Regions from separate parts of the Homo sapiens genome. Here regions 1 and 3 are each reported to be linked to region 2. Evidence: microRNA targets listed by miRTarBase, many of them from high-throughput screens and not tested one by one. Region 2 holds a microRNA gene; each other region holds the end of a gene's coding sequence.

Region 1 (3,341 bases), not on the chromosome of region 2:
TTGGGAATTGAGAACTATATGTAATCCATTCTATGGAAACTTGATAACTCAAGGAGAAGACCTGTAGTAAGCACAGATTCTTTGGTCTGGACTGTTTCAGATTGCTTGGATGAATCATGGGATATTGCACCAAATGTAGAGGATTTCATCGTTCCAGTTTAGATACAGGAGTCTAGTCCCTCTCTACTACTAGAGGGACAATTCCTAAAACCAGTGCATAGAAATAAAATCTAAAATAGAAGATACAGTCTGTTGATACTCCAGTGGTCTTCCTTAGTGGAATAGGAGCATAATGTTCTGATGTGGGAATTGTGTTTCCTGTTAGTCAAGAGTTTTGTGTATGTGTTGTTTTCTTTTGGAATGTCTTTCCATGCAGGCCTTAAAGGTAAAGCTGGAGATGAAAGAGGAAAGAGTCCGATTCCTAGAACAGCAAACCTTATGTAACAATCAAGTAAATGATTTAACAACAGCCCTTAAGGAAATGGAGCAGCTATTAGAAATGTAAGAAGAAGCAAGTGGCCAGATGGCTCCCTCTTGGGCATAAAATCTCAGAGGAAGCTACTTAGGACATCATCTTGGCCATGATCTTCTGGGACTCACCATCTCCAGAATGAAAACAATTTCTACAGTAGACTTAAGGACAGTTTATGCTGAAATGGCAATTCCTCATTTAAGCAAGTTTTCCCAACCTTCAGGTTGGTCAGCCCTCCTGAGCCTCACAGGTGGATAATTGAGGCCTACAAGAGAGGGGAGCCTAGGAGCTTGGATTGACCTTCTAGTCAACCACCTGACTTCAGCACACCATTACAATCGGGAGACTAAACCAACAACCAGAGGATCTAAAATGTCACATTCAGATTTTCAGGAAGAAAATCTTCATTACAGTGGAGCACAAATGTTCCATACAAGACATCATTGAGGAGCCATGCTGTCCCCTTCTAACCTGAAACACATTCTTTCCCATCCTGGTTGGGCTTCTGTACCTCCTTATTAATTTATGAACCTGAAGTTGCTTGAAGTGTTTTGGGCTTAATAAATGGGGTGAAAGTATAGGTAGCAGTAACACCTACATGAAACAATACACCTTGGATCTTTTAATCTAAATTACTTTTCTTTTTTAAGTCTACTTTTAAAATAAATACTTCTGTAAATATTCTGACTGTAACATTGAGGAATGAAAATAGCCTTTTAACCTAGATATGTCAGTTGATCATTATTGAACTAATTTAGTTAACAAGTCCAAGATATTCTGACTTAATCTAGAATATTTTTCTGCTACTCTTTAAGAGTCCTGTGGCTAGTCCCTCTGTCTCCCAAGAGCATTGGCTAGTCTCCTGAGGGTGTTGCCCATTTGTAGCAGTGGTTTCACCAGGTCTGTGGCCACTTGCTGCCCATGTTTTCCCTGCACTCTTTTTTTTTTTTTTTTTCTGAGACACAGTCTCACTCTGTTGCCTAGGCTGGAGTGCAGTGGCGTGATCTCGGCTCACTGCAACCTCCACCTCCCAGGTTTAAGCAGTTCTCCTGCCTCAGCCTCCCAAGTAGCTGGGACTACAGGGGCATGTCACCACGCCTTGCTAATTTTTAGTATTTTTAGTAGAGACAGGGTTTCACCATGTTAGCCAGGATGGTCTCGATCTACTGACCTCATGATCCGCCCGCCTCGACCTCCCAAAGTGCTGGGGTTACAGGTGTGAGCCACTGCACCCGGCCTTTTTTTTTTTTTTTTTTTTTGAGACAGAGTCTTGCTTACTCTATCGCCCAGCACAGTGGTGCGATCTCTGCTCACCACAACCTCCGCTGTCTGGGTTCAAGCAATTCTCCTGAGTAGCTGGGATTACAGGCACCCCACCCCCCACCACCACACCCAGCTAATTTTTGTATTTTTAGTAGAGGCGTGGTTTCACCATGTTGGCCAACTCCTGACCTTAAGTGATCCGCCCGCCTCAGCCTCCCAAAGTGCTGAGGCCAGGCATGAGCCACCACACCCTGCCATTTTTGTATTTTTAGTAGAGTCGGGTGGGGTTTTGCCCAGTTGGCCAGGCTGGCCTCTAACCCCTGACCTCAAGTAAGCCACCCACCTCAGCCTCCCAAAATGCTGGGATTACAGGCGTGAGCCACCACGCCCAGCCCTCCCTGCACTCTTAAGCATGATTATCTGCCTGCTGTTTGCTTTGCACAGCCAATCCTAGGCCTGGTCCAATAGATCCTTTAGTACATGGCCTGAAGTCCATGACAGGCCTCCCCCCGGTTTACCAAAGGCATGGCCAAATTTTTTTCTTAACCAAACTAGGCTGACTTTGGCCATCTCCTGTTCTTTCTGCACCTCCTAATTTCTTCTCCAAACCCTCCCACCCCCACCCTTCAGCATCTTTAAGGCTGCCCAGAGACACTCAGTGAAGCCAGTAACACTCCAACCTGAGCTTAAAGGGCCAAAATTGTTTGCCTTCTCATACAGACATTCACAAAGTTGGTTATGTTTCAAATATTTTGAGCCTATCCACTAAAAACTGGTCTTTGGCAAATTCTCTCAAACTGAGTTCATACCAATAAAACTGGTATGAACAGGCTGGGTGCAGTGGCTCATGCCTGTAATCCTGACACTTCGGGAGGCTGAAGTGGGTGGATCACGATGTCAGGAGTTAGAGATCAGCCTGACCATCATGATGAAACCCTGTCTCTACTAAAAATACAAAAATTAGCTGGGTGTGGTGGCACACACTTGTAGTCCCAGCTACTCGGGAGGCTGAGGCAGGAGAATCTCTTGAACCCAGAAGGCGGAGGTTGCGGTGAGCCGAGATGGCACCATTGCACTCCAGCCTGGGTGACAGAACAAGACTCTGTCTCAAAAAAGAAAAAAGTATGAATAAGTTCATACCAATAATACCTGTCTTGCTGGGTGGTTATAAAAGAGAATTATGTCCAGTACCTAACCCAGTGCCTGGCAAAGGTACTCAAATCCTGGTGGTGATATTATTAAAGTTTAAAACTTATCCTGGCAAAAGATTCCCTTCATAAATTCACCCCAAACTTCTATTCCAGTGCCCCCTTCTCCCCACCCCAAAACACAGTCGCTGATCTTACCATGCCTTTGCAGGCCTCAGTTATTCAACTTCCTTCTGACTTGGGAACTCTCAACTTTGACTCTTAAGTTCAAATTGCAACCATCTTAAAACATAAAGCCAAAACCCCACCCTTATCCCCTCCAGCTACCACATATACTATATTCACAGCCAAATATCTCAAGAAGCTATTTCCTTACCATTTTTCTTTCTCTGCCAATCTGGCTTCAAAGTACACAGAAACACTAATGTGATGTAGCTACAGTAGGCAAATCCATCCAA
Region 2 (3,000 bases):
CCAGGGAGCGGGGCAGGGCCTGGCCAAGAAGAGGAGGTCAGAGGACGCTAGGGGCTTGCTGGGGGTGGGAAGGAGATGACAGCCCCTGGCAGGAGGGCACAGACACCCCAGGCCAGCTCCAGCCAGGGTCCCTCACAGCCCCTGGAGACCGGGACAAGGACCTGACCACAGAAGCTGTCTCCACCCCACTTCGTGCCCTCTGCTCCCCAAGCTCTGCCCACTGCCCTCAGCCTTCAGTCCCCACCACCAAAACACCCCACCAGGTCATCCCTGACCCTCTCCCATGGGTGCCCTGGACTGACCTGCGAGGCTGCGCCCTGTGAGCCTGTCTGGTGCCCCACTGGTCTGCCCTGTCATCCCTAGGGCTCCCCAGGCCCCCAGTTCCAGCCTGCCTGCTCAGGGCCAGCCCCTTCCCAGGGCCCTGAACCCCAGAGTCCCTTTCTCCATCTCCCCAGTGAGGAACCCCCCCGGAAACTCCCATGAACACCCTCCCCACAGCTAGCTCCTGTTTCCCAGCCTGGGGATGGGGATAGCAACACCACCGTCCCGAACCGTGGCCTGGTGCCTCAGCTTGCCCTGCTTTGTGAGGGGCAGGCAGACGCCCCTGGGGAGCAGCCTGCTCTCCATCTGTCTTCCCTACAGACAAATAAGTTCCCATTCCTGCCTCTTCTGTAACCGCTCCCCAGTGTTACAACATACAGCGATAAACACGAGACCTAGATTCTTCACGGTAAACGGCAAAGGCCCCTGCCCTGGCCTCACTGCCCCGCCTCACCTCCGGCCAGCATGCTCCCCCTCTGACAAGAGAAGAGCCCTTCCTGAGTGGCTCCACGTCAGGCTGCCACCAGCACCCCCCAGCAGCAGACACAGGCTGATGCCCTGTCCTTGTTCTGCACCCCCGACGGCCCCATCCTTTCTGCCTCCCAAGCCAGACCCTACCATCAGCAGGTTCTCCGTGAGGATCAGCTCAGAGAGGTTCTCACAGTCCCCGATGGCCTCGGTCACCTCGCACAGCCGATTCTGGTCTACCTTTAGGATGGATAGCTGCTTCAGCTGACCTGGCGTCGGGGAGACAGGGGGACAAGGCTGAGCATGGTCCCCAGACGTGCCTTACCCACCTGGCCAGAAGCGCCCTCAAGGCAGACAGCAAGGCCCCCAGCCCCTTCTGCCGCCGCCGTACTTCGGGAGGACCCTACCTACCTTGCCCCACAAGCCTGACCCAACCTCCTTCAAGAAAACACCAGGCCCCAGTGGCACTGCCACCCTTCCGCCCTCACAGACTCCACCGCCCCCTCCAGCACCACCAGCTGCCTCCTCAGCCTTCTGGGCTGCCCCAGGGTCCCACCTCCCCTCCCCAGGGACAGCTCCCAGAGCCTGGGCACACTCAGGATCCTCCCCTGTGTTCCACACCACACACAGCCCCGACGCCCCACGCTCCTCCCAGGGCCAGGCTCCGTGTGCCCCACCCAGGCACCCCCAGGCACACTAACCGATGCCGTCGGGCAGCCTCCGCAGCAGGTTCTGGGACAGCAGCAGGTCAGTGAGCAGCACCAGCCCGCCGAGCTCAGCAGGCAGCTCCTCCAGCCGGTTTTCCGACACGTCCAGGCACACCAGGCGCCGCAGGTTCCCGAGCTCCTGCAGGTGGGCAGAGAGTCAGAGCGCGGATGGGCACGAAGCAGGGGGCCAGCCCCACCCTGACTCACCGGGGGCAGTGCTGACAGCTGGTTCCGGTCAAGCCACAGCTCCCGAAGATTGGGCAGAGCCCCCAGAGTGTCTGGCTGCAAGAAGGAACAGAGAAAATAGTGACTATGAGGCAAAGCCTCCTGCTGCGCCGTGCTCAAGAGACTATACGCCCCCACACCCAGCTCCCACCCGCCTGCCCTCCCGAGGTGCCCCTTGCTGTCGGATCTGCTCGCTGTCCCCTTCTTTGCCCTTGCTTCCGTGGCCCGCCCTCCGGTCTCTGCCCTGTCAGGCCTCCACGCACCAGCACTTCCAGATCGTTGCCTCCCAGATCCAGCTGTTCCAGCTTGACCAGAAATGACAGGGACCTGCAGAGGAAGCAGGGTGGAGGTGTGGCCACGCAGCCCTGGTCCCTGGGCTGTGGCCCTGCCCTGGCTGTTAGGAGAATGCCTGTCACACTCACGCTGGCAGGGACTTGAGCAGGTTCTCCCGGAGCTCCAGGGTCACCAGGTTGGCGAGGCTGAAAGAGAGACCAGGCGCTGGGGCAAGAGGAAGGAAAGCAGTGGCAGCAGGGGCAGGGCCAATCCTGGTCCCCCACCCCACCCTAGTTCCACCTGAGAAGGCACTCACTTGCCCACGTCCCCGGGCAGTGCCTGCAGAGACACATCATTCAGGGCCAGGTGAGCCAGGCTGCGCAGCTGAGTGAAGCCATCAGGGAGCCTGGATGGGAGGAAGCAGAGGCCCTCGGATGACCAGTCCAGGGCTGTGGGACCCATAGCCCCTACCGACCCCACCACAGGCTGCCACCCACCTGGAGAGGGGGTTCCCGCTGAAGTCCGCGATCTCCAGAGCCTTGCAGAACTTGATGCTCTCCGGGATCTCAGGGATATCTGTCACAGAGGGTCACAGTGGACAGATGCCATGGCCTGCAGGCCGTCTGCAGCCCCAGCGGACACTCCCCAGACCCCACCCAGCCCCTGCCCAGGCTCCCCACCGTTCCGGGACACGTCCAGCTCCACCAGCTGCATGAAGTTGGCCACCTCGGGAGGCAACCGCTGGATCTCGTTGTCGCTCAGGCCCAGCTTGCGCAAGTTCAGCAGCCGGAAAAAAGGCTGTGGGCAGGGAGGACACGGACTCTGTGGCAGAGACCACTGCAGAGCAGAGAAGAGCTCCTGGACACGTGAGTGTCACAAGTCAAGAGTCCCTAGGCCTCTGTCTGCTCCAGGTCACACCGGGTCCTGGGGTCTAACCACGACACCCCATTTGCAAAAAAAGGAAAGAAACACACGGTACACACGCCCACTGTGGCTGCCTCCCTCT
Region 3 (3,000 bases), not on the chromosome of region 2:
ACTTGTCACCATGTATGTGACAATGCCTATGCCAAGCACCGTGTGCAGTGCCCTTCATTCCACCCACACAGCTTCCCCGTGTCACAGGGGAGAGGACTGAGGCTCCAGAGGCAGTGTGAGAAGGGCCGGGGTCTGATCCTGGCAGCAGGATGGGGCGGGAGTGGGGAGAGCGAGGTCACTGTAGCCTGGGTCTCTGCAGGCACCAGCAGTCGCCTGGCAGCAAGGCCTTCCAGCGCATCCTCATCGACCACCTGCGGGCCCCGGACACCCTCACCACTGTGTTCTTCCCAGGTATGCGGTGGACCCCCACTCACTGTGGCCCTGGAGGGGCAGTGGGCTCCTGAGGGCTCCTGACCCCCTGCCTCTGACCCCCAGCCTCCTGGTGGATAATGAATAACAACTGAGCCAGACCTGCACACGCCGAGGGCCCCGGGACCCTGCCTGCCTCCCTCTGGAGCCTTCTGGACTGGCCAGCCCAGCGCAAAGACCAGGACTTGTCTCCTCCTGGACTTGGGCCTGGTGGAAGGGCTCTCAGCCCAGGGATCAGGGACTGGGCTGCTTGCTTTCTATTTATTATTGATTTATTTATCCCTGTATTTTATTGTTTGTCACTTCAGCCTCCAAGCTACTTTGGCTTCTGCCTGGCTCAGGAGACCTGGATTCTGGTCCCTGCTGTCCCTGCCTGGCTGAGCGACCCAGGGCAGGTCCCGTCCCTGTCTGGGTGGGCCTCAGGCCATCTGGCCGCCTAGCGAGGGTCCTGCTTTCTTCCTGCTGTCTTGGGACCAGGCTTCTGCTCCTCCTCAGCCAGCGGCAGAAGCAGGGCTGATGCTCAGGGACCCCCCAACCCTCAAACCTTGCCTCCGAGGCTGGGCCTGAGCTGGGTGCCCCGTCGCCCTCCCAGGCCACTAGGCTCTGACTCTTCCAGCACCCATGGATGTGCCAGAGGCCTCTGGGTTGGTTTGCATGTCATTTGCATATCGTTTGCATGCCCTCATCCCACCCATTCTCAGGGCAGTATGGGAAGCCCCAAGGTGACCTGGCCAAGTAGCAATAATTTGGGTCCAGGGTCACCTATTGCCCCCAGAGGCCTCTGAACCCCAGGCTGGGACCCCAGCACAGAGGCAATAAAGGCAGTGGTCCCTTCCAGTGTTGCCTCCTGTCTCGCAGGTCTGGGCTGTGGGGCCTGTGCGCCTCCCAGGCCAGAAGCTCCAGGCAGGGCACCTCTCTTGGGAAGCCCCCGGGTTCCCACCTTGTGCCCTCACGCTCGCAGAGTGGATGCTCACAAGAGCTGACGCAAGTTTTCCCACTTCAGGGTCCCTGGCCCTGACACACCCTGGTGCTGGGTCCTGCCTGAGGGAGGGGGTGACGTGTCTCTGCAGGTTTTATAGGGGTTCTGGCTTCACCCACACAGAGCCTCCTCTGGGCCCAGATCGCTCCTGTGGGAAGACCTGTCCTCACCAAGCTGGACTTGTCACTGCCACCCCACATAGAGTGGTTCCAGTTGGACAATGGCTGAGTCAGTCCTACTAGCCCCTGGGGGTGTCCTCCTGCCCCCCTCCATTACTGGGGGCATGGAGGGGAGGTGACCAAGAGGGACATCTAAGCAGCTGCTCTGAAGAGGAGGCCCCTGGCACCACAGAAGCACAGGATGGCATTTGACCTGGCCTGGGAGTGTTGGCGTCAGTTTTCCAGACAGAGGAGACGGCACATGGGCTCTGAGGAGAAGGAGGGCTTGCCTGGTTGAACCAAGGGTGACCCAGTAGCGGGGCTGAGCTGGGGGTGCCAGGGGGAGAGGGCTGGGTGAGGCTGGGCCTCTGAGGTGCTACATCCCAAGGAGGCCATGGGAGGCTTTAATTCGGGGTGAGGGGGTGGCCGGTGGGTTGAGTGCCCTTTCCATGTTCCTGAACGCCCTGGTGTTGCCAGGTCCTTACTGGGCTGAGGCCTGGCTACAAGGCAACTCAGATGGCACCAGTTCAGGGTGGGCATTCCCATCTGGGACTCCAGGCAGGGTCTTCCCTGCGGTTTCTCCCTGGCAGCCCCTGTGGGAGACAGTTTCTTCCACCAGCCTGGCTCCCTGGGCCACCTGCACAGAGGTCCCTGCTGGCACCCTGGCCAGTCCAGTGCCAGGCCGTCCTCCCGCCACCCCGCTTCCCAGATCTCTGGGAGCTCCTAGAAAGTGCTGCCACCATCTGAACCACATGGGGCTCTGAGCAGGCTTGAGGCTTGTTCGGGTGTAGTTGTGTGTGCCTGTAATTCCAGCTACTTGGGAGGCTGAGGCAGGAGAATCGCTTGAGCCCAGGAGGCGGAGGTTGCAGTGAGCCAAGGACTACAGGCGCACACTACCACGCCCAGCTAATTTTTGTAGAGATGGGGGTTTCGCCATGTTGCCCAGGCTGGGCAGTGTGTCTTGTTAGAGAAGACAGCTGAGGAGGACATCGCCCTGCTTTACGTCCTGTGTTGTAAAGGCTTCTTTTGTCCTCCACAAAAACTGTAGCAACAAATCCTCAAAACTAAAAAAACTTCCCTCTGCCATCTTTATTTATTATTGTTATTTTTTGAGACGGAGTTGCTCTGTCGCCCAGCCTGGAGTGCAGTGGTGCGATCTTGGCTCACTGACCCTCTGCCTCCTGAATTCAAGCGATTCTCCTGCCTCAGCCTCCCCAGTAGCTGGAATTACAGGCACACACAACTACACCTGGCTAATTTTTTTTGTATTTTTAGTAGAGATGGGGTTTCACCATGTTGGCCAGGCTGGTCTTGAACTGCTGTCCCCAAGTGATCTGCACACCTTGGCCTCCCAAAGTGCCGGGATTACAGGCATGAGCCACTGTGCCCAGCCCACTGCCATCTTTAGACATGCCCAAGCCCTCAGGCTGACTTATCTGTGGTGGGCGTCTCCTTAGTTTTTGTGCCCTGGGCACCCTGCCTGCCTCGCCCTGCAGTGCAGTTCTGAAGGTGGACACCTCTTTATTACAATTTTTAATAAGAAAGGCTGTGTCC

The links. Region 2 holds the annotated microRNA hsa-miR-937-5p (GUGAGUCAGGGUGGGGCUGG, at 1,684-1,703, opposite strand). A microRNA usually pairs through its seed, bases 2 to 8, with sites in the 3' UTR of a target mRNA and lowers its output. Matches are read on the target gene's strand: a 7mer-m8 pairs with bases 2 to 8, a 7mer-A1 pairs with bases 2 to 7 and ends in A, and an 8mer does both.
Region 1: the mRNA of KNSTRN is a reported target of hsa-miR-937-5p. The part of its 3' UTR that is shown has no 7-base or 8-base seed match.
Region 3: the mRNA of NECAB3 is a reported target of hsa-miR-937-5p. The part of its 3' UTR that is shown has no 7-base or 8-base seed match.

What each region holds. Positions count from the first base shown.
Region 1 is chr15:40,393,093-40,396,433 of GRCh38, forward strand. KNSTRN (kinetochore localized astrin (SPAG5) binding protein) reads left to right here. Exons shown (of 9, transcript NM_033286.4): 9 at 377-1,196. The coding sequence ends at 505. Among named protein-coding and RNA genes, the nearest start is that of IVD, 11 kb to the right of the region's middle.
Region 2 is chr8:143,811,327-143,814,326 of GRCh38, forward strand. It overlaps MIR937 (microRNA 937), which reads right to left and starts at 1,716; the gene lies at 1,631-1,716. SCRIB (scribble planar cell polarity protein) reads right to left here. Exons shown (of 37, transcript NM_182706.5): 2 at 2,675-2,792; 3 at 2,492-2,570; 4 at 2,311-2,400; 5 at 2,144-2,200; 6 at 1,985-2,048; 7 at 1,704-1,778; 8 at 1,491-1,635; 9 at 940-1,058; 10 at 1-19. RefSeq lists an enhancer at 2,825-3,000.
Region 3 is chr20:33,655,233-33,658,232 of GRCh38, reverse strand. NECAB3 (N-terminal EF-hand calcium binding protein 3) reads left to right here. Exons shown (of 12, transcript NM_031232.4): 11 at 200-291; 12 at 376-1,146. The coding sequence ends at 404. Among named protein-coding and RNA genes, the nearest start is that of C20orf144, 5.6 kb to the left of the region's middle. RefSeq lists an enhancer at 1,438-1,938.